Linked DNA regions of Homo sapiens: regions 1 and 3 are each linked to region 2. Evidence: fine-mapped expression QTL. A gene starts in region 2. Each other region holds a variant in brackets. All regions are shown on one strand. Distances are between the middles of the regions. Region 1 overlaps LINC01121 (long intergenic non-protein coding RNA 1121). Region 2 holds the start of SIX2 (SIX homeobox 2). Region 3 has its middle 30 kb from the start of LINC01121.

The links. PIP is the estimated chance that this variant, and not a neighbour inherited with it, causes the effect.
Region 1: its variant is fine-mapped to the expression of SIX2 in aorta (GTEx, PIP 0.97).
Region 3: its variant is fine-mapped to the expression of SIX2 in aorta (GTEx, PIP 0.91).

The regions. Positions count from the first base shown.
Region 1 is chr2:45,221,690-45,229,866 of GRCh38, forward strand. The region is part of intron 1 of LINC01121 (long intergenic non-protein coding RNA 1121); the gene reads right to left. Among named protein-coding and RNA genes, the nearest start is that of LINC01121, 29 kb to the right of the region's middle. The variant T/C (reference allele first, on the strand shown) is at 3,371.
Region 2 is chr2:45,004,920-45,013,096 of GRCh38, forward strand. It overlaps SIX2 (SIX homeobox 2), which reads right to left and starts at 4,533. Exons shown (of 2, transcript NM_016932.5): 1 at 3,632-4,533; 2 at 263-1,566. The coding sequence starts at 4,191. The coding sequence ends at 1,251. RefSeq lists enhancers at 867-1,410, 1,411-1,954, 3,228-4,001, 5,006-5,605, 7,869-8,177.
Region 3 is chr2:45,280,416-45,288,592 of GRCh38, forward strand. No RefSeq gene overlaps it. Among named protein-coding and RNA genes, the nearest start is that of LINC01121, 30 kb to the left of the region's middle. The variant G/A (reference allele first, on the strand shown) is at 3,445.

The DNA.
Region 1 (8,177 bases), 220 kb after region 2:
GGAGTTTTACTAACCTGGGTACGGTAGCGGGGAAGCCACCCTCACCCCCCAACTTGGTGTGATTTTTGGAGAAGCGAACCCAGCGAGGGGATGGGGGTGGTGAAGCCAGGCTTGGAGCTGAAGCTGAGGTCTAAAGTTTGGGGGCAGGTGCCTGCCTCCAGTTCTGCCTCTGTCACTCTGGCCCCCTCTTCTCTGGGCCTCAGTTTCCCTGTTGGTAAAAGGAGGAAGTTTGAGTAGGTGATCTTTGAAGTCTTTTTCACCTCTAGCATTTTCCAGTTTTTCAATTCTGTCTCTTTGACCACCAGTTCCTACAAGTTAGAAAACTCCAGTCCACCCAGATAGGTCTCAGTAAAGATGTAAACTCCCAACACAAGAGTGACAGCTAACCTTCCTGCATGTTGACCAGGTGACAGAAACCACTATAGCTACTTTATCTGTGTTGGCTCATTTCCTCCTCACAGGAGCCCAAGCCTCGTATCCCCATTTCACAGATGAGAAACTGTAGCAGAAAGAGGTTAAGACATGTACCAACATCCCAGGTGGTAAGATAAAGGACGAGGCCTCAGGCAGTGTGCTCCAGAGGCTGTGCTCTGACCCCCCAACCCAGACTACACTTCTTCTTCATAGATGAGTGACTATAACGCCTCTAATAGACACAACAAGCCAAAGGTGCAAACAACCCAGATGTCCATCAACAGACAAATGGTTAAACAAAACTTTCAGTGGAATATTATTCAGCCTTAAAAAGGAATGAAGTTCTGATCCATGCTACAACATGGGTGAACCTTGAAAACATTATAACTTTATATGCTTTTAACATTATAAGCTTTAAAATATTATAAGGCTAAGTTAAACATGCCCAGCCACAAAGGACCAACACTGTATGATTCTACTTACATGAAATATCTAAAATGGACCAATTTATACAGACAGAGAATAGATTACAGGTTATCAGGTGCAGGGGAGAAGGAGGGATGGGGGAGTAATTGAAAGAGAGTTGCTGTTTGGGATGATGAAAAAGGTCTAGAAATGGATGGTGGTGATGGTTGTACAACAGTACGAATGTACTTAATGCCACTGAATTGTATACTCAAAAATGGTTGAAATGGTAAATGCTGTGCTACATTAAAAACAAATTTTGGCCGGGCACAGTGGCTCAAAAGTTGTAATCCCAACACTTTGGGAGGCCAAGGTGGGCGGATCACCTGAGGTCGGGAGTTGGAGACCAGCCTGACCAACATGGTGAAATCCCGTCTCTACTAAAAAAATACAAAATTAGCCTGGTGTGGTGGCACATGCCTGTAATCCCAGCTACTTGGGAGGCTGAGAGAGGAGAATAGCTTGAACCCGGGAGGCGGATGTTGCGGTGACCCAAGATTGAGCCATTGCCCTCCAACCTGGGCAACAAGAGCCAAACTCCATCTCAATAAATACATAAATATTAAAAATATCATAATAAAATAGATCTCACTTACTGAGCTGCTGTTAAGACCCTACTGTGCTCAGTGACTTACAGGCTCTGCCTCGTGTAACCTTTACAGCCACCCTGTGAAGGAAGCTCCCCTGTCATGCCACCCACTTCACAGGCAAGACGGCCAAGGCTCAGGGAACAGATTCCCTCAGGACCCATGGGTAGTGAGCGGCAGAGGGGACACATACACCCAGGTAATGCTGAGAGCAAACTCAGAGAGGAAGGTAGAGGACGATCTGAGAAGGCTACGAACAAGCTGAGACGAACCAGGGCGTGGGGCCCATACCCTACCTGTGCCTGCCAGGTGCCAAATTCCACATTTATCTTTTCTCACATTTCTCCCTGTATTCGTTTTGTGTTTTCTTCCCTGTTTTACATCCAAGCAACACCTTTCTGCCTCATTCCTCCACTGATATCACTGCCTCTGCCTTGTGTGCTCAAGACACCTCCCATTCGCCATCCCCCCAACCCCCCGCCGCCACAGCATGGCAGGACAGCCTGTTGGGTTTTGGGGGCGGGAGGGAGCATAGGCCTGTGAAGCCTCATTCTATGCTGAGGGGGAAAGAGGCCCAGATCTCCACTACAGGGGACGAGAAGCGAGCAGCTCCTCCCACACCCCCACTGAGGAGACTCCCAAGGCTAGGGGCAGCTGGCTGATGGTTGAGTGTCCCCAGGAGAACCTCAGGGAGACTGGCTGGGTGACTCCATGGGATGCCAGGCCCTGGTGCGTTACTAGTTTCGCCCAGTCTTGGCTGACCCCCTATGTGAGCAGTGTCAGGGCAGTGAGTTTCCTTTGCCCCTTAACTTTTTCTGTTTAGAAAAAAAAAGTGCAGCTCGCTGCAAGCCTCATTTAATTTTACATAAACATGCTCTTTGAGGCTGAAGCAAATAGACTGATTTTCAATGCGAAAATGAAATATAAAAACTGTTCTTGGAGTCATTTCTAAACACAACTAACCCTGGAATCATCTGTTTCAGAAAACTCAGATTCATCAAATGAATCTTTGGCCAAAAATTGTCCAAGAACGATATTAACATCACTCATAAGAATGCTACGTTTTCAAGGATTTGACATTTTCAGCAATCGAGAATTGCTATACATTGTGAATGGAAATACCACTACTAAAAACAGAATGCTACAAATAGAATGATGGCTTTTGTTGCCAAAGTCGACAACAATAATAACAGCGAGATATTCTGTGGCAAAGTTATCTTGGGGTAAACGTTGCAGCTGCAAGCGCTGCCGGCAAGTATTCTCAGGGCAAACAGGAAAAGGGTTAAATAACTGAGAAGTGCCTGTTCCCACCGAGGCACGTGACATTTTGCATGCAGGTCACCCAGAAAAGCCAAGCACATCTACACACAGACTGCCTCACTCATGTTCAGTTTGTAGCCCCCACCTAAGGCATTAGCCTGGCCCCGAAGGGCCTTAGAAACTCCTCACATGAAAAAGCTCAGGCAAAACTGTCAGATGACAAAGGCTGTGATTGTGGGGGCTGGAGGGGATTTTTGTATGTCTACGACTTGCTCTCCCCACCTGGCATCCCCCGAGACATTTCTGCGGCATTCTGTTCCCCCTGCACCCTGCAGCCTGTGACCCAGATGTCTGCGGATGAGCTGTGACTCCCCTCAGCTGGGATAAATGCCTAGTTTATCCCAAGAAGGGTGACCACTTCCAGATGATAGATTTCAAACGTAGGCTTCCATGCCCTCAGTAGAGTCACTATTGCCTAACAGAGAGGACTCTGGTGTCCAGCTTCTGGGGTCTGACTCCTGACTCTATCACTGAGCAGCCCATGGATCTTGAGCAAAGCTGTGGCTGAATTTTCCTCATTTATAAACTAGAGCTGATGATATTACCTACCTTGTATATTTAAGAGAATTAAATGGGATGAAGCA[T/C]ATAAAGTATTTAAACCAGTGCCTGGCACAAAGGTCCTATTTAATCTATATTGGCTATCATAATGGCAGACAGACATTGTTAGTCAGTCAGCCTCAGCCCCAGATTCCTTCTCAATATAAGTAGCAAAGTAAAGCATCCAGGCTAGAAGATGTCTAACTTTGCTTTCAGCTTGAGAATTTTCTGACTGGTAGTATCGTTCCCTTCTCCCTGAGCTGGGACTCCTCTATTCCACCCGTCTCCTATTATGCTAATGCAAGAACAACTACCCTGCATCCACCCCCAACACGCACTTTAGATCCAAAATTGGTCCCCGGTTTTCCCATGCATAATTTTAAACAACTTTATTAAGATAGAATTCGCATACTATAAAATTTATCCATTTAAACTGTAAAATTCAGTGCCTTTAGTATATTCAGAGATGTGCAGCAATCACCACAATCAACTTTAGAATATTCTCCTACCCACCCCCCAAAAACCTTATACCCCTTAGCCATCACCCATCAATCTCTCCATTTCCCCACTCCCACCCCACCCCCTGGAAAACATGAATCTACTTTTTGTCTACAGATTTGTCTCATCTGGGCATTTCATTTAAATGGAATTATATAATATGTGGTCCTTTGTGACTGGCTTATTCACTTGGCATTGTTTTCAAGGTCCATCCGTATTGTAGCATGTATCAGTACTTTGCTTCTTTTTATTGCTAACTTCAATTCCACCGTACAAATATAGCAATTTCATTTATCAGTTAATAGGTTGGTGGACATTTGGATTGTCTCCACTTTTTGACTATTATAAATAATGCTGCTATGGACATTAATGTAGAAGTTTTGTGTGGATGTATGTTTTCATTTCTCTTGGGTTGATGCCAAGGAGTGGAATTGTTGGGTCATGTGGTAGCTCTATGTTTAACCATTTGAGGAATTGGTAGAATGTTTTCCAAACCAGCTGTACCATTTTAAATTCCACTGGCAGCATATGAGGGCTTCATTTCTCTACATCTTTGCCGACACTTTTATTAGCTGGGTTTTTGATTATAGCTATTCTAGCAAGTATGAAATAGTATCTCATTTCCCTGATGGCTAATGATGTTGAACATCTTTTTATATGCTTATTGGTCATTTGTATATCCTCATCAGAGAAATGTCTATTCAAATCCTTTGCTTTTTTTTTTTTTCTTTTGAGACAGGGTCTTGCTCTGTCACCCAGGCTGGAGTGCAGTGGTGTGAACATGGCACACTGCAGCCTCAACCTCTGGGGCTCAAGTGATCCTCCTGCCTTAGCCTCCCAAGTAGCTTGAACCACAGGCACATGCCACCATGCCTGGCTAATTTTATTTTTTTTAACTTTTAGTAGAGATGAGGTCTCACCATGGTGCCCAGGCTGGTCTCAAATTCTTGAGTTCAAGTGATCCTCCTGCCTTGGCTTCCAAAGTGCTTGGATTACAGGTATGAGTCACCACACTGGGCCCTGTTCTCACTTTTTGATTGGGTTATTTGTGTTTTTATTATTGAGTTGTAAGAGTTCTTTGTATATTTTAGATACAAGTCCCTTATTAGGTAGATGATTTGCAAAAATTTTCTCCCATTCTGTGTGTTGTCTTTTTACTTTCTTGATTGTATCCTTTGAAGCATAAAACTTTTTAATTTTGATGGCATGCTGAATAACTTTTGTATTTGATATGAGAAGCAGAGGCAAAAATATCATGATTTGTAGATGACATGACTGTATATCCTGAAAACCCAAGAGAACCTATTGAAAAACTGTTGAAAACAAGAGAATTCGGTAATAAATCCGGTTATTAAATTAATATACAGTAAACAATAGCCTTTATAGAAATAAATATGTAACAGAAGATATAGTAGAAGAAAAGGCCCTATTTTCAATAGCAAAAATAGTATAAAATACATGAAAATAACTTAAAAATTTCAAGAAATATGTGAAGGAAACTTTAAAATACTCCTGGGGACGCAAAAGGAGCTTGAAAAGAATAAAAGGTATATTATATTGTTAGATATGGAGATTCCACATCATGAAAATTTCAATTTTCTATTCAGTTATTTTATAAATAATGTAAATCTAATATGATTGCAATAAAGACACCTATAGGACCTTTTTCATGGAACTAGAACAGCTGATTGTAAAGTTCATATTAAAAAATAAACAAACAAGTATAGCCATAAAAACCGGGGAAAAAAGGGTAGTGGGCAAGCTTTGGAGTGAAAATCAAGAAACCAGGGCTCTAGGCCCAGCTCCGCCCTAACAAATGGAAGGACGATTCATCATTTCTATTGGGACTGCAGTTTCCTCATCAGCAAAGTAAAATATCCATGTTAGACAATGTCAAACCTTGCCTTCAACTCTAGAATTTTCTGATTGATTCTGTTACAAGACTGCGAGTTCAAATACTCCAGACTTGGCCAGTGCCACGTCCACTCTAAATAAGTCAGGACAGCTTAGCTTGGCAAGGCAACTAAGAGAATGCTTGGCCGTGTAGATGAGCTTCTGGGACACCAGGGAGGCCCTTTGCCAATAAGCAGGCTTAGCCTTATTCCCATTCTGTTTCTGGCATTGCTCTATGGGGTTTAGATGGTTGATTTGACCTGGCCTCTCTCTCCATTTCCTGCCCACTGAAGAAGTAAGCAATGTATTTGGGTCTTGATGCAGTTCCTCTGAGATCCTTTCTTAGAAGCCAATATGAATAAGAGAGGGGAGAAGAACAGGGGAGCACAGAGACTCCACCAAGGGAGGGTGAGCCACCCAGGGGAAAAGAGAAAATGGAGGCACAGAAAACCAACACTGCAGATCTCTTAGTCCCAGAGAGACTGATATAGTTTGGCTGTGTCCCCACCCAAATCTCATCTTGAATTGTAGCTCCCATCATTCCCACATGTGGTGGGAGGGACCCCGTGGGAGATAACTGAATCACGGAGGCAGCTTCCCACAGACTGTTCTCATGGTAGTGAATAAGTCTCACAAGATCTGATGGTTTTATAGGGGGAAACCCCTTTTGCTTGGCTCTCATTCTCTCTTGTCTGCCGCCATGTAAGATGTGCCTTTCACCTTCTGCTGTGATCGTCAGGCCTCCCTAGCCACGTGAAACTGTGAGTCCATTAAACTTCTTTTTCTTTATAAATTACCCAGTTTAGGGTATGTCTTTATCAGCAGCATGAAAATGTACTAATACAGAGTCCATTCCAAGAGGATTACCCCCATTTAGCCTGATATTGGAAACATACACTTAAGCAGAGAACCCAGATAAAGGTCAAAACCTAAACTTAAAGTGAAATTAAATAAATTAATACCTTTATATAAAAAAGAACACATGCATCATCAACTAAGTATTTGTTGCTTTGAACACAGTAGAATAATTTGCACAAGAAGAAAAGGAAAACTATCTTCTCTACCCAGACAGGAAGGACTTTTTAGGGAAAGGAAGCTGTAAAAGAATTCCTTGAAGGAACAAGAAGATAATACTTGACAAAGCTTGCTAGGATTTGCTTTCTCCAAAATCCAGAGAAGACATAGGAGAGAGCGATGAGAGTGTGACAAGAGAGCAAATAAAAAGTTGAAGCTTCACTTGAAGATAGGGAGGAGCCGAGGAACTGGGGAAGAAATACTAGCCACCATGGCCAAGCACAGTGAAAGGTTCTGTAAGTGTACTGACATAAAGTAGGTTAGACAACTCTTTTTTTCCTCTGGGAGTGGGACAATTCCCTAATACCAGGGCCCTGCAGGGAGTTTTGGAGGTGACATTCTGGGGACTGGCATAATTCCCTATGATATCATTGCAGGACATCTAGGGAGCTGGGGGTCTGATCACCTCCCAGCATTCTTTACCTAACCTCGGAAATGTTCATGCTATTATACTGCTAGTGGCCGAGCAATGACTTGAATTTAGGTCAACTCAAGTAATTGCTAAACTTCTACCATGAGTCCAGGTTCATGCTAAGGACTCCCGTAAACAGAAAAGAAGCCAGAGTATGGTCCTTGCTGTTTAAGGAGTTTACAGCTGGAAAAAATTATAATTCCATATTGGAAAAATGATGATTTGTAAAATTCACCCAAGTCTAGCATTCAATGTAAAAATGGGTAGAATAGTGAGTGAAGCAGGAGTTCAAAGGGTCAGAGGACTGAGTGGCCAGGGCAGACTTTACAGAGAAGGTGGAACTTGACCCTGCTCCACGTCTCTGACAGGAAGGCCTGTCTTCCTTCCCGTCTGCCCCCAGGCATGCAAGGACCAAGCCAGGGTCAAGGAGTGGAAGAGCAGCTTATCCTCCAGAAGCCTAGAGGTGAGGCTCTAAGTGGGAACTTTCTCCTGGCCTATCTTTTTCAGTGCTGTTTGTTTGGCAAGGGAACAGATTTTCCTGTTACAACAGCCAAAAAACAGAAAATAAATCAAGGAAAGAGTGGCAAGGACCAGCCTGGAAATGAAGTTAAAATATCTAGGCTTGCTGAAGACAACCACAAAATGGTTTTCTCCTCAAAGTGGCTGCACAGCTTAGAGGGACGGCAGATCAGACTGCTCTAATGGATCTAGGGACATATTCTTCTCCCTGACAACTCCACCCACACCTCTTCCCACCCTATTTCCTCCAAAAGCCTTTTGCAGATGGTGCCTCTTAGTTCCCAGAACCAGTCTGGAGCAGTGATTAAAGGACCAAAATTCCAGGAACCATTTTTTTTTCTTGTTGTACAGTTTGGCAAATGCTTCAGCTATGCTAAGACACAGTGAACCATTTAAGAGTGACAATCAAGATGCTGGAGGGAAATTAAGGATTCCACTGAGCATGGGGCCAGTCTTCA
Region 2 (8,177 bases):
GGCTGTGCGCGTCGCTGGTGTGGGGAGGGCAGCAGGCTGCCCCTCCCCGCTTCTGCAGCGAGTTTTCCCAGCCAGGAAAAGGGAGGGAGCTGTTTCAGGAATTTCAGTGCCTTCACCTAGCGACTGACACAAGTCGTGTGTATAGGAAGGCGTCTGGCTGTTTCGGGACTCACCAGAGAGCATCGCCAACCAGAACGGCCCACCCGGGGTGTCGAGTCTTGGTAGGGAAATCAGACACAGCTGCACTCCCGGCCCGCGGGCCTTGTGGCATATAACCATTTATATATTTATGATTTCTAATTTTATTATAAAATAAAAGCAGAAATATTTCCCGAAGAACATTCACATGAGGGCATTACGGGGAGACGGCAAGTCGGCGGCTCGGGGGGCGCGCTCAGCCGGGAGCGCTGTAGTCACAGTCCCGGGAGGAAGAGCGCGGTGTGGCGGGGCCTCGCCAAGAGAGAAGGAGGAGGGGCGTATGACGAGGCGGCGTTTAGGGGCTTCTGTGGCGCTGCCCTTTCTCTCTCACTTAAGTTACTAGACGAAAAGCTGACACCTGCAGCTCCCACTGACCCACATGGGCGAGGGAAAAGGCCTCAGGAGATGGCCTAGGTTCAAAGTCCCTGTATTTTCTCTCCTCTTCCCTCTCCCACCCCCTACTCCGGTAAAGCGAGGGCCAGAGGTAGGGGCAGATAGACCACCAGTCAGGAGGAGAAAGACAGGGGTACATACGGAGGGACCAGGACACAGAGTACAAGAGACTGGCAGGAGAGAAGAGAGGAGAAACAGAGAAGGAGAGAGAAAGGGAGAGACAGAAGGAGAGAATGAACGGTGGCAAGCTAGAAATCTAGAAGGAAAGCAATACAAGGAGAGGGAGAAAGACAGAAAGCAGAAAAAAGAAAAGAGAAGGAAGGGAAAGGAAGAGGAAAGGGGGAAAAGGCAAGACAAGAGAGGGTAAAAGGAAGAGACAGAGGGAGAGAGAGAATGACAGTGGTGTATAATTTATTCCCTTCTGTGGTTCAAGACTCAGTCTCCAGCCCCAAAAGGATCCTAAAAGTAACTTGTTGAAAATAAATCCCAAACAAGAACCAACATAGACAGCTATCTGCCCTACCCGGCTGTTCTACCCGCTCAGCCTGCGGGTCTTTCAGTACCTGGTGGGGCCGCAGGGGCGGGGCGCCCCTGGACACCGCCACTCCACGTCCCCAGTGTCAAGTCACAAAAGGCAAGCTCATCAAGGCAAATGGGTTCTAGGAGCCCAGGTCCACGAGGTTGGCTGACATGGGGTTGAGGATGGAGTCCTGCAGGCCATGGTGGTGTTGCAGTGGGTCCGCTCCACCTCCGCCTGGCACCGGCACTGGCACTGCGCTGGGGCCCGGAGGGTGGCCCAGGCTGTGCAGGGACGGCAGCCCAGGGGGCGGCGGGCTGAGGAGCAGTGCGGGGCTGGATGATGAGTGGTCTGGCGTCCCCGATGGAGTCTTCTCATCCTCCGAGCTGCCTAACACCGACTTGCCGCTGCCATTCAGCGGGTTGTGGCTGTTAGAATTGGAGTTCTCGTTGTTCTCCCTGCAAGTGCGGGAGCAAAGCAGCGGGGTCAGCAGGGACATCGAGACCACCCAGCGCCATCTCAGTCACAGTCAGAGCCAGCCACCAGCCTCGGGAGACAGATCCCGGGCTTGTGGCCTGCGGGTGTTTTCGGTTTCTACCATTTCCTCGACCTGGTCTGGGTTCTCCTTTCTGCCCGTTCTCTCCATCTCTCAACACCCAATTTCTCTTGCCCCTCTGCCCTTATCGTCCCCACCTCTCATGCTGTCAATCTCATCAATATCTTTTCTATATTTCCTCTTTCCCCCCTTCCCCAATATTTCTTTTCAGGAACAGAGGTGCAGGAGAACAGGGTTCCCTGAAGTTGTGGGGTGAGCCGGGAGGAAGAGACGATGCCTGGATTTTCAGATCACTCTAGGCTCCACAAGCCAGGTTTGCTGGGTAGATGTGGGGCTAGCAGGTTAAGGAACCCTGGATCCCAGGTCAAGGGATTTAGGGCCTCTCACAAGACTTCATTTCCCTTTGCTTTTTCTGCCCGAGGGAGACCCCTGGCTGGGAGACAGGCTCCTGGGGCTAAGCGTCCTTTCCCTGTAGCTCCAAACTGGGCAGCCCTGTGAGGGCTCTCCTTGCTGGGCCTAGAGACAAGGGTCCAAGGATGGAGGACTCCCTTTCCGTGGTGGTACAGTGAAAACGTCAGCTCGGAGACCAGAAGCTTGGGGGATAAAGGGCAGCCCCTGGGAGAAGGCCGAGGCTTTTCCATTGTAACCAGCCACTCCGGGAATCTGCAGCTCTCATCTGGGGCCTGGTCTGAGAACCCAGGTTTTCAGGAGTCTGATCACATGCCGGTTTGGGTGGAGGGGGACCCAGCAGAGAGAACCCACCTCCTTCTATGCCTTTGACTGACAGCTCCTCCCCAGATTTGGATATTTAAAATCCTGGGTAGGATCTCTTGTCACCAGCTTCGGGAGGGTTTTTCTTTCTGCTTTCCTGGGAGGGAGCTTCCCACAGGGCTGGCAGCTGAGACCTCACCACTGTGGAAACTCCAACCTCAGGGTCTCAGATACCTGGAAGTATCTGAGCCTGCAGCACTCCCCCTAAGATGTTTCTGGTTCAGCACCCTCACCTCTGACCCTGATCATTCAAACTCAGGGTGGAACACACCCCATATCACCAACCCCAGGTGTCCTGTTTTGCTCTTACCCCGGGCTGGATTCTGTTCCCATAATAAGTTTCTCTCCAGGTTTGAGGTCCTGAGGGGTTATAGGGCAGGCAGTGGCAAGGGCCTAATGATCAACCTTTAGGCTGGTTCAGGAAGTCCTGGTTTACCTGAGGACATCCAACTCCCAGCCCCTCTGTGCCTCTCAGCTCACCGCAGACATTCCGACCTACCCATCAGAGGTAGGGCCTAAGGAGAGAGGCATCAAGGGCCTGGAGTGCCAGGGAAGGGCGGCTATCTCTAGCAAGGCAGAAAACAGGGCATGCGTCTCTTCTCTCCCAGAACTGACACTTCCTCCCTTTCACCTCTGGATCCTTTCTAAGGAGATAAAGGACCCGCTCTCAACTCCATGTGACAACGAAAATTCATGGCCTGGCTTTTCCCCATCCAGGTCATTCTAGGGAAGTTCCAGCCCCAGTCCCGACCCCATCACACTTTGGCCTGGAGCTAAGGCTGGGGGGAAATGCCGGGAAGCACCACCAGCAAGAAATCTGCAAATCCCCTTTCATCTGGGCTCAAACCCCTCTGTCCTGAGGATGACCAGACCTACTGTGCCTGCCTCACAGGGGATACAGGCCCACAGTTCTGCGCTGCCCCGAAGCTCTCTGCTTCTCCACCCTTTTCCTCTAGCGACCGAGTAGTTAGTTGACAACTTCCTGAATTGCTCTGCCCGCTTTAGACAAATCCCTGCTCGCCGGGTCTCCGGCATAGAAAGGCCTAAGCATCGTCCAAGTCAGGCCGGGCTGCCGCTGGGCTGTGGCCGGGCCTGGGGGCCCAGTTTAGGCCTCTCCGGGGGACCGGCAGAAGCCCTGCGAACCCCTCCCTTGGGCCCCGGGGAGCTGGCGCCGAAGAAGGTCTACTTACTCGTACCTTTCCTTGGCCTCGGCCGCCCGGTCGCGCTGCCGCCGGTTCTTGAACCAGTTGCTGACCTGTGTGGTGGTGAGGCCCGTGGCCTCCGCCAGCTCACGCTTCTCGCGGGGTGAAGGGTAGGGGTTGTGCGCGTACCACTCGCGCAGCACGCTGCGACTCTTTTCCTTGAAGCAGTAGCTGGTCTCCTCGCCGTCCCAGATGGAGCGCGGCAGCGGGAATTTGCGGCGCACGCGGTATTTGCCCACGGCGCCCAGGGGTCGGCCGCGCAGCTTCTCCGCCTCGATGTAGTGTGCCTTGAGCCACAGCTGCTGCAGCTTGGCGTGGTTGTGCGGCGAGAACTGGTGGCTCTCCAGGATCTTGTAGAGCTCGCGGAAGTTGCCGCGGTGGAAGGCCACCACGGCCTTGGCCTTGAGCACGCTTTCATTCTTGTGAAGGTGCTCGCAGGCGGGCAGCGACCACAGGAAGCGGCCCAGCCGCTCGATGTTGCCGCCCTGCTGCAGCACCTCGCACACGCACGCCACTTGCTCCTGCGTGAAGCCGAAGGTGGGCAGCATGGACATGGTGCCGGCTGCGTCCCCGCCCGCCCGCGCGCGCCCTCACCGGGCCGCGCGGTCCCGCATGGGAGCTTCCTCGCCGGGCCGTCCGGGCCGAGACGCGGGCGGGGCTGGCCCCCTGGCCCGGCACTGGCCCCCGGTGAGCCCCGAGTCACTGCCGTACGTCCCCGCGCCGGCCGCGGGTCCCACGAAGCTCCGAACCCCAACGGCCCGCGCGCCTGGCCCAAGCCCTCGCCCAAGCCCGGGGGCCGCCCGGGGCGCCGCTCCGCATGCTCCGCGCCCGCCCGCCGTTCCCTCGCTCGCTTCTCACTCGTTCTCCCTCCCGTCTAGCTGGCTCTCAGCTTTCTTAATAATATTATTCTAAGCGGGCATGAGGCGCGGCGGCCCGCGCCCTGATTGGTCCGGTTATCTGACCCGGGGCCTGCCAGCGCCAGACAATAGTCGGAGTCAAATTATTCGCCATGGAGACGCTGTCAGTCACTGGTAACCCGAGCCTCGGCGGGCCGGGCGGCTCCCCCCGGCCGGCTCCGCTGACAGATCGCCCCGCTCCGCGCAGAACTGAGGGCGGCTCTACTGGAGCCTGGGGCGCTCTGAGAGCCTGGGAGGCGGAGAGGGGCCGGGTTGGGGCCGGCGGCGGCGGAGATTGACGGGGCGGATGCCCAAAGAGGGAGGGAGGAGGAGGACAGGAGAGCGGGGGGAGCGGGCGAAGACGAAAAGGGGTGGATCGAGGTGGGGAGAGAAGAGGAGAGAAGGGAAGGCGGAGACCGTTTAAGGGGGTGTCCAGGAGGAAGGGGAGGGAGAGGGGTGGAAGGAGACTCCAGGGGAAGAAAGTTTGGGCAGCTTTGGCTAGGAGAGGGCTCTGCAGCCTCGCCCAGACCCTACAGGGTTCCCCTTCTCCCCAGGTCACCGCGTCCCTCCCAGGCTCTCTGTTCACCGGGCACATTCTACCCCGGCGCAGGCCAGTGGGATGGGAGAGTTTGGACGTGCTCGGGTGCCGCCCAAAGACTTGGCTTTTTCTGCTGACAGCGCCCCACCCCCATCCTAGAAACTCTGGACTCAGCGGTCCTCGAGGGAAAAGGGGAGGGAGTAGACGAAAGAAATGGGGAAGATTTGGCAGTGGCCGCAGGCGGACGCCGGAGAATCGACTTCCCGGAGGATCCCGCCTTTCCTCCCTCTCCTAGCCCCGCCGGCTGCCTGGCGGCCTGTACCGCCCCAACTCTGCGCTCTCTGCTCCTCGCCGGGCGGGGACTCAGACTTAACCCCACGGGTCCCACAGCCCGAGGAGCGCCAGGCAGTTCCGTGTGGCCTCTATGGAAGCTGACTCCGGCCGGCAGCTGCGACGCAGAACCCCGGACGGCGCAGACCCGCAGTCTGCCCACCGGGGCGGGGGAGAGGGGCGACGGCAGGGACTCTAGGACGGTGGTGGGGCTTCCCCGGTGGGTGGTCGGGGAGGAGAACGGAGGCAAGATTCCCAGTCCTCCCGCTTCGCCGCTGGGGATCGGCTCGGCTCCTGGCCACTCCAGCCTGGGAACCGGCTCGCTGAGCTCCGGGATGAGGTGCTTTAAAAGGGGGTCCTGTTTTTTGCTTCTTTGTCAGGGTGCCAATGGAAACATGTGGTGCTGGTCCTGTGGGAGAAGGGCTCGCACAAAGGTGGGAGAACTGAGGATGGGTGTGTTCTTGCTCTACGTTTTGAAAAGCCCGGGGCTTAGCTCCTTCCCGGACATGTCCTTTCCACTTCCTTCAGTTTCCTCCTCTTCCCCCCTCAGCTGCTGCAGGCCAGGAGCTCCTAGGGCCATACTCAGTGCCTGACCCAAGCCAGCACAAATCCTGGGCTCTGCCCTCAGCCAGTCTAGGGCTATGGAACCCGAGTCTAGGCCAGTTCCTTCTTTCCCACCCTTTTATGCTTTCTATGGAGTTTGTGCTAGGAGCGCGGAATGGGAGTCTAGAGCCCTGGGTTCAACTTTTGGTTTTGCTTGGTGTCTATGGTAAGGCATATATTTATGCCTTTGTGTTTATTTCCTTCTCTGCAAGATTTCAAAAATTTTCCCTGTGCTGCAGCATTCCGGAAGTCCTTTGGGAGTGTTGTAGGCATGAGAGAATGGAACCCTGGGACTCCTCTTAAGACTTTAGCTTCCAGGGGCCTACCCTGGCATGTTGAATGAGGCCACAGGGCTGACAAAGTAGGTCCCAAGCCAGTGCGGGTGCAGAAAGGGGAAGCTTTCTGCAGAAATCCAGGTGGCATCTTTAGAGTCTGTATCTGTGGGCTGGGAGGAGGTCTGCTGTGTCCAGGCCACCCTATCCAGAGTCCTATGCACTGCTGCACAGGGGCTGCCCCAGAGTTGGATCTAAGGACCCTGGGAGACATGGAGAAGAATTTACCGCAGACTGTGATGAGGTTCAAAGCCCAATTTGCTGACCTCCAACAAAAGTGCAACGTACTCTTTTCAGCACGTCTCCTTCAGCTACGTGGTTAAAAGGATTCACCTGGCTGGCTGGTCCCAGCCCTGGCAATGGCCATCTTACATCTTAGCGTGCTTAGGCTGGGGCTGCAGAGGAGCACCCTGGTCTGGTGTGGGTGAGTGAGACCAGGCAGTCACTTCCTGGTATGAGACCCTGGGCCAGTCCCCAGTCTGCTCTTCATTCTCTTCCACTATTAGATTGAAGCCTGGGTAATCTCTCAAGTTCCTGCTGGTTCTGGGATGGGGTGGGTCTAAGAACACTAACCCTGAAAAAGCATACAATCTCTGCAACCTCAGCCACAGCCTTCACCATGAATGTGCCACTCCTCTGACCCATGAAGCTTTAAGATTAAACTTCCCCCAGGACTGGGTCCCGCCTATGTTCAGTGAAAGCAGATTTTTCTGGAGCTTCAGACTCACTGTTCCTCCAAGTGCTGCCCTCTTTGCAGCCCCTGGGCCCTAAGCCCATGAATCAGACCTGCCAGGAGCCTCCAGGCAACACTAAGCAGCACAGAGAGAACAGAACAGACATGGGGCCTGCCACCGTGGATAACATACTGTGTGCCATATGAAAAGTCATTACAGAGGAAGCACTGAAAACCTGGAGCACCGTTACCCGATGTATGGGTGTGTGTCAATATGCCCCTCATTCTCCTCCTCCCCCATGTATGTAGAAAACTGGTTCCAGCACATCTGGGCCAGAACCTCTTGGTAGCAGCAGTAGCTGGGTTACATGCTGAATGAGGGTCTCCTCACACTCCTTAGCCCCTTCCCTGCCTGGCCCATTCCCCGATAGTCTTTGCCACAGAACAGAATACTTGGGAGGTGTCTGGATGAGGATTTAATAGCCAGCCTGAGCCAATGACAATCTCAGCCCCCTAGTTGCAGTGCCCAGAGCAATTGCTGAGAGGCCTACGGGGTGCCGAAACTTTTGGTTCTACCTCACTCCAATCTCCGGAATCCCTGTCCTCCTTCCTGTCCAAAGACCCATTCCCAAGAGGCTTGTGCTTGCTTTTTATCCAGCAAAAACGGGAGAAACTCCATGGCTAGGGGGAGAAACCTTTTCGGAACCATGGAAATTTGAGCTTTACTGAAACACCTCCTTTCACCTCCAAGCTTCCCTGAAGTCCCTGGGAGGATGAGACTTTCTGGAAAGCAGCAGCAGGGGTGGGTGGGTGCTCCCCAGTGATCTCAGGCTGATGGAATAGCTTTGTCCCAGACGAATTGTCAGGGACAGTTTGGGGTCTTTGTGCCTGGAGTTGGGCAGGAAGCGCCCAGGACAGAGCCAGAAGGCACCTACTGTCCGGCGCCCATTGGGCAGCCCAGGGCTGGCACACCGCGCCCAGCGGGTGCACTTCTGGGCAAAGGAAGAAGTCAGCCCACTGGCCTCCCGAGGGCTTCCCTGGTTTTGGGATGGGGCCGTTTCGCAAAGAATAGGGTAATCTAGGAAGAAGGAGCTGCTCTCTGGCTATTTCCAAGGCCAGCGGATGGGTAGGCCTTTGTTCTGGGCAAATCAGAAACCTTGTTTGTGAC
Region 3 (8,177 bases), 280 kb after region 2:
TGGCTAGATAGCACGTCTCAAGGTTTCGCAAATGTTCCTCCATCATAGGCCTAAGAAAACAGAACTTGTTCTGTGGGCAACTCTTTGCCAAACAGCTGGACGATGGCACCTCTAATAACGATGGAGCTTGTGCACCAAGCAGAATCTTCCAGTTTATTTGATAGCATAAGAGGTTTACGAGCCTAGGAAATACCTTTGGTTTCACTGCCCCAGTTGAAATCCCTTTTACGTTTTAGTTCCTGCTAAATCAGCAAGACGAACATGGCTTGGGTTAGGGCTGACGGGGAAGAAGATACCTCTGGTCCCTAAACCCAGTTCACTGCCAAGCCCAAACAGCCCCCAGTGGGCTCCATCTCATTTCACTCCTACAGTACACAACCTGCCCCCGCCTCCCCCGACAACCACCACCACCACCACCAGGAGGGATCTGCACAGTGGTGAAGCCACGGAGACCCAAAGCACGCCCAGAACCCAGCCTCCACACGAGGCTTACAGCTCTCTCGCCCCGCTCCCTCCTCCCCGGCATCCTCTCCCTGGAGAACCTCTCTCCTTTCAGGAAAGGCGAATCAGCCAGCGGCCAGAGCCGTGGTAATGGAGCTCAGACACGGGATCGGGTGTCTGGAGGGCCCCACTATAAACTGCGGGTCACATCCTTCAACTTGATTCCTCGCTCCATCTTACACTTTGTGTGTTTCTGGGGGACGCGGCGGCTGATGGTGAGAGAGACAAGTCCCTGGCATGGGGCTGTGGAATGAGGGATTGTTCTAAAATGGAAAAATTACTTCAGGTCCAAAGTGGAGCGACTGATTTCAGACCGTGGAGGAGAGGTGAGGGAGTGCCACCCTGGGGGGCTCTATCACAAGTCTCCATTTCCCCCTGTGAGCCCCAGGAAGAGGACCCAGCCCTTCTCTCTGCTCGTGCTCCAGGAAGCCTCCTCAGAACTGTGTCTGGAGGTTCTGGGCTCCCTGTTTTCTCAAGTATAACATGGAAATCTCTGAGAAAATGAGATAACATATCAGTGCACGTCAGTCTTGGGAGGAAGAATCCTTGAAATGTGCAGGAAGGTTATTTTCCATTCTGGTGACCACGTAACTGCAGAGAAAATGCTGCCTTTCCTTCCCTAGCAGTGACGATGTTGAATGGGAATGATGGTGGCACCTGAGGACTTTTCACCAACGACGCATATGGTGGGTATCTAAGGAGACAAAGTCCCCCACAGAGCTGCCATAAACCTCACTCCTGTTTTCGTGGGAGGAGTTGGAGGGGCCTCTCACCCTAACCCAGGGCCCCTGGTCCCTGGACACCAGGAAAAAAGGGGCAAGCCTGCCCAGGCCCACCCACCTCCATCTGCTCACACCCTCAGGAATCAGAGAGGAGGCCCATTCTCCTAGCAGAGGCCTCCCCTCTAGGGCTGCTCTGTGCCCCAACGCACCATTTGTGGGTCACACTTGAGTCTGGGCTTTTCGGTTGAACAAATCTCTCTCCCCCACAACAGTCGTGGCCTGACAGGCTGATGGTGGGACTGCTGCACGACAATATTTAGACACACTGCTAACTATTTCCAGCTGCCTGGAGGACCCCGGTACTAGATGAGGTGAGACTCTTCAAGGTTTCACTGCAGAGGCGAGGACAGCCAGAGGGCATTCCCTAAACTTTTTTCTACTGTCCTCCATTTGATGAAAGACTTGTGGTTAAACCTTTATCTTCCATAAACATTTAAAATGTGGTTACCTTGATTTCCATGTCTCATTTTCGTTTTATTAAAAAAATGGGTTCCTTGCAGTAAAACATCTGATACTGTGGATGTTCTGCAGAAAACAGATGTTTCTCCATGTAATAGACGTCGGCAGGCCTCTGTGCGCCCACCAGGCCTCACTAGCACTCACACACACGCATGCACACGTGTGTCTCATGAAAGGCCAGGGCAGGGCTGGCCCTGTGAGGAACGCTGAGGCTGAACAGCCACTAGGCCATAGGGCTTGAGTCCCTGTGGACTCAAGCCATGAGACCTTTGGGCCAAGAGGCCAGAGACCACGCAAATGCACCACCGAGAGAGGTAACGAGGCCTGGAACCGTAATTGGGGGGTTTCATCACTTCTGAGGTCTCACTATAAACACTTCCCTCCATAGTTCCCTGTTTTCACTCTCTAGGGCCTCCTCACACTCTGCCCGCAGCGGGGCTAAGGGCAGAGTTAAAACCCAGCAGGTACAATCTTTCTCGAGGGTGCACAGAAACACCTGAGGACCCTGCCAGGTCAGCCTTTGGCAAAGCTATAGGTAGTCCTTTTTTCCATCTTCCTTCTCCTCTTTCCACATCCCAGTCCTAGGCTGAAGGGAGGCCCATAGGGGCCCAGGGCCTTAGGAAAAGCCACTGTTTTTGCCTCCTCCACCCAGGACACACACGCACCTTTGCCAACCTTATGACTCAACCACTGGGACAGCCTGGCTCACTCATTTTCCCAGGAAGTTTGCTTCCCATCCCTCCTGGGGATTCCGCTGGAGCTACCTGAGACACCTGAGGCCTGCTCCCTGCCCAGAGACATTTGGATTTTTGTGGAGACCCTGAAAAATGAAGAGTTATCAAGACCCAAAAGAATTAATCCCTGGCTGTTGAATGCCTCCAGTGCTAAGGAAGCTGTTTCTGGGCAGGAGGGGACTCTGCCATGCTGAAGATGGCCCCTGGCCACTCACACTGCCCAGCCCAGAGGGCAGCATCACAAAACACACCCTGCCTCAGGATAGCCAGGTACCCTCTCAGCCTGCCTCCCTCTGTTCCGGGAACCCAGAAGCACCATTTCCCCTGTCGATACTTCAGGATCACTTGAGGAGGGCTGGCTTTTGCTCAAAGTCCTGTAGTTCCTACAAGCTGAAACTTAGAGGCAGCAATTTTGTGAAATTATTTCCCTAGAATTATCTTTATTCATGTCCATTTCACCTCATTCCAAAAAGGATTTGTGAAGCTTTTAGAAATACAAATAACGTTTTTTGTAAAAGGTGGTATTATAGCAAATGACTGAAAAACGAGGGGAGAAACATAAGATGAATTTCAGTGGCTGCAGAACATTTTTGCTAGGAGGAACTGCAAATTTGGCTCTGGGCTTCCCAGTTGCTACAGCAGAGAGGATATATGATTAGTTACAAGAATCACAGTGTCACTAAGGTAAAAGCAAACCGTCACTCACAAGAATCACAGATATTCCTGGGAGTGAGACTTAAAGCAAATTCTCACATGGGCTCACAAAGGGAGTGTTCAGGTATGTAGTAAACCATTTGTTTTCATCTTGAAAAACAAAATAAACTTTAAAAACTGGATAAATCTTTTCCAAATTTAATTTCATAAAAAATGTAAAGAAATTTCAATAGACAGAAAAATTGTTCTGGCTGCAGGGGACAAGGGCTCCATGCTATGTTCAGGATGCCAAAGTATCCCATAACCTCACTCCC[G/A]AAACAGCTCAGTCAGACTGACTTGGTACTGCATGAGTCACTGTTTCCAAACCTGCGAGAGGGTGTAAGTCCCCTGGAGGGCTTGTTAAGCACAGGGAGCCCAAGGCCCCACGGCAAACTGACTGCATCAGAATCTTGGAGAGGGGGAACGGGCATGGTCTGTAGCCCCAGGTGACCCAAGGCCAGCTTTGGCAAACCTGCCACAGACAAACATCTCAATCGTCTGGCTGAACTAGATGGTAAAAACCCATTGAAATTACCAAACTCTGTCCTGGGTGTGTGGCATTCATCATAAGGTAGGGCCCCTGAGGAGGTCTCTGCCAAGAGAAACACTCTGGGAAAGACAGCATTGAGTAAGCTCTGAGGGCCATGGGCGGGCTGCAGTGATTCGGGAGAGGGGTAGAGAATTTTCCTGCCCCCTCCCTGGCAGCATCTCCCCCGCCTCCACACCAGCTACCCCTTCCCCTCCTGCCCTCCCTGTTCCCAAGGCGAAGCAGCTCTTGCTGTCCTTTCCTCTGAAACATGCAAATACCACCAGGCAGGGTGAGTAACAGGTCTGCCCCTCCATGTGGCAGATGTGGGAGAAAGACAACACCTTGGGTGAACTGACTGCTCTGGGCGTTGCTCTGTCTCCTTAGTCTAGCTCACCCCTCACACACAAGCCAGGGCAGGCTTCTGCAAACCCTATGGTCATCAGGTTACTTCCAGTTTGAAAAGTCCTTCAATGACTTCCCAGTGGCCATGACTTTTGTCTAATCATATCATGGTTAAGAGCTTGGGCTCTGGAACCACACGTGGGTTCAGACCCTGGTGTTCCCACTTAGGCTCTGTGTGCCCTTGGCAAGTTTTTAACCTATTCAGAGCCCTAATTTCCTCATCTATAAAATAATGATTCTGCCTATCCACTAGGCAGAATATGCTAGGTTTTGCTGCAATAACAAACAACCCTGAAATCTCAGTGGATTACAACAACAAAGTTGCATTTCTTATTCAAGTAAAGTTGGCTGGAGGTTGAGGGATCTCCCCAAGGCTATTGTCCTCTACATGGAAGCTCAGAGATCCAGGCTGTCTCAACTATGTGTCACCCCTGTCTACCATGTGCTTCCAGGATACTGGAGGGCCTCGTGGAGACTATTAAGTGCTTCAGCCTAAAAAAGATGTCCATCACTCCCATTCACCAGTCACTGGTCAAGTTTCTCAAATGGTCTTGCCTCCAACAAGGATGTGGGAAAGAGAAATTATCCTGTGTCTAGAAGAGTCCCAGATATAAGGGAGCACTGAACACAGGTGATAATGTTTAATGTTTAATGGGGTGCTGGTGGTAATGAAAGGAAATAATCCATGTAAGCCTTCAGCACGGTTTCTGCCATATAGGAAAGGTTTAAAAAATTTTCATCTTTTGCCTCCTCTGCCATTCTGGTTCTGAACAGTGTTCTGAAAAGCAGTTGCCCATTTCCTAGCTTGTGATTTGACCCTCCAGGCTCGGGTCTTTGTAGCCTCTCATTTCCCTTGAGCCCAGTGTTCATCATGAGATTTGCATCAGCCATTGTGAGAACCCTTGATGCTACAGTGGCAAGAGGCCAAGGTTGATTTCTCATCTAATATTCAATCACGCACACTACACACACTTACATGTGTTAAAGAGTGCGTATTCCAGAGGTCATGAATTAATGTTTCATCAGCGCTGTCATCATCAGTGAATAAGCTGATCCAAGGTCCAGGAACAGGAGGGGCCACTAAATAGAGGAGAGAGCATTCCTGGGAAAGGAGTGAAGACTCGCCAGAGTCCACATCTGTAAAATGGGGCTGATGCTCCTGCCAAGCTCACTGAGTTGTTGGTAAGACTTGACAAGAGCAGGAAGCCTGGTCCCCTATGACATGCCATCAAATGCAGAGCAGTATTTCTCTGGCAGGTGCCAAATATTATGGAATTTTTCCTGGAGAAAATGCATCAGCAGAATCCTTTGAAGATCTCCAGTGCTTCTCTTCTGTCCCTAGGGGTTTCTCTCCTCAGAGGTCTCTGCTTCCACCCTCACAATCTAATTCTTCTCCCCTGATAACTGACTCACCATACAATTGCATAGCTCAGTATCTCTTCTTTGCAGCCTCACTGGGAGGGGGCGGTCAGATTGCACTGGAGAGAGTGTGCAGCTTTTCCAGAGCTTTGCCCAGTACAGCCCCAAGCTCTGGGGAACAGCTTACTGCTACCCTAATAATAACAAGGCTCACACCACCATTACACAACTTTAATACCAGCTTTTATGCGGGCATCTGGGGATGTGTGTGCTTATGAGCAATTTGTAATGAGAAAAAGACCGACCTGCAGCAGGCTGGGAGGGGAGGGACCCAGAGCACCAGGAAAGACAGGCTCCATCACAGGGGCCGCCCCAGGCTCTGGGGACAGGACTGCTGCCCTGGGATGTTTAAGGCACTATTTGATCTCTTGTTAAGTCCCACATGGCTTCAATTTCCATGTGCTCTGAAAGAGAATGGAATTAGAGTCAACAGATCCATCATGCCTCTCATAAAGATGTGCTCTTACTCAAGAAGAAGAAAAAGAAGAAATGAAAACTCACGTTCACGGAAGACCTACTATGTGCCAGGACCATGTCAAGAGCTTTATTTTCATGCATTATTTTATATGAGCCTCACAATAACCCACTGGGGTAGATTTGTTGCTGTTTTTTGTGGTAGACTAAAAAAAAATAGCCACAATATTTTGCACCTCATCCCATCGAGAAGTAGAGTCTGTTCCCCCATCCGCTCAATTCTGTATTGACCATCCTGCTTTGGCCAGTGGGGCATTAGCAAACACAATGTAAGGGGCTTGAAAAGTGCTTTTGCATCAAGGCTTTCCCTCTCTCAGCTTTGAACCCTTTTGCCACTCTGTGAACAAGCACAGGCTAGCTTCCCGGGGATGAGAGACCATGTGGAGCAAGGCGCCCACCTCTCCAGCCATCCCAGCTGAGGCCACAGGCATAGGAGTGAGGCTGTTCTTGACCATCCAGCCCCAGCTGAGGTTACCCACACCTGAAGAACTTCCCAGCCAACTTACATAATCATGAGAAATATTCAGTGCTTGTTATCTTAAGCCACTATGTTTTCAGAAATTTGTTATTCAGCAAAAGCTATCTGATACATCCCTTTTTTATAGATGAAGAGCCCAAGGCTCCGAAAGCTCAAGTCATTTTGCCAAGAATCCTCAAATAAAATTGGCAGAGCAAGGATTTGATCCCCAGGCTTATATTTAGTGCCCTGAATTACCTGCTTTCCCCTGCAACTTGCTAGCACGTAGAGAGAGATGCCTGAGAGAAAATTTCCTTAAGAAACGCTAACTCCCCCATAGAGCCGTCATCACCCATTCCATTTTGAGGAAAGCTGGAAACTCTCCAGTCCTCTAGAGAATTTCTGCTTGGATAGGCACAGCACAGACCTGAAAGTGTTTCTCTAGATGGCATTTTCGTAAGTGGAAGCTCACTTTTCCATTGCCTCTTGTTAATGAACTGCTGCATCCTTACCTCTGAAGATTCTTCTAAGGGCACAGGCAACTGCTGCTGGGGTCTTGGTCCCTCTGGCTAAGAGACCCTCAGCACTGGTCAGGTGATCAATGTACCTTCAAGTACAACTGGAAATCTCCTTGGTCAGCAATTGTACTAAGAAGAATCACTTTGGATGTGTGAATTTAAACTACCTTTTTTTTTTTTTCACCCGGGCTGGAGTGCAGTGGCATGATAGCTTACTGTAACCTTGAATTCCTGGGCTCAGGCGATCCTCCCCTCCCTCCTCAGTCTCCCAAGTAGCTGGGAATACAGGCACTTGCCACCACACCAGGTTAATTTTAAATTTTTTGTAGAGATGGCATCTCACTATGTTGCCCAGGAAGCAACCCTCCTGCCTCAGCCTCCCAAAGGGCTGGAATTACAAGCATGAGCTACCAAACCCGGCTGAAACTACCTTCTTATCCTGACATTATATTTCAAGAAGGGCCTGCCTGAATATTGTCATACCCGCCTCAGGGAGGCCTAGTGACAGTTTCATGTCCCAGCAATCAGTTCATGAGAACAAATCTCCCTGGCAAAGCCCTGTGGTGCTTGCTGGTATACTCTCAGGCCAGTCTATTCCCATGACATAGGCAAAAGGGAGCTTATGAGTTCTGGGTCCTGGACACAGGGTAGCCCTCTGTCTTGATGCAGGATTGGCTTTAAGCGGACTTTTGAAATAATCACTGTTATATTCTAGCACTTCTGCGCTCTTTTTCAGGCCCCTGGCTTCTCTGCTTCTCCATTTTGGAATGAACCCTATCCTTCCACTCACCTCCCCTGCCACCAAAGCACTCCATGCTTTAGAATTATTTCTCCTCTCCCTTCTATCTCCCTTGACTCTTCTGCTCTCCTTACCACCTAGATGGGCTGGACCTACATAGTGGCTTTCCTTTCGCTGTCCTCAGTTTGTTTCTTTTTTTTCTTTTTCTTTTGTTTTTGTTTTTGTTTTTGTTTTAGACAGAGTCTTGTGCTATCACCCAGGCTAGAATGCAGTGGCACGATCTCAGCTCACTGCAACCTCCACTTCCTGGGTTCAAGCAAGTCTCATGTTTCAGCCTCCCAAGTAGCTGGGATTACAGGTGTGCACAACCACACCTGGCTAATTTTTTTTTATTTTTAGTGAAGGCAGGGTTTCACCATGTTGGCCAGGCTGGTCTTGAACTCCTGGCTTCAAGTGATCTGCCCACCTCA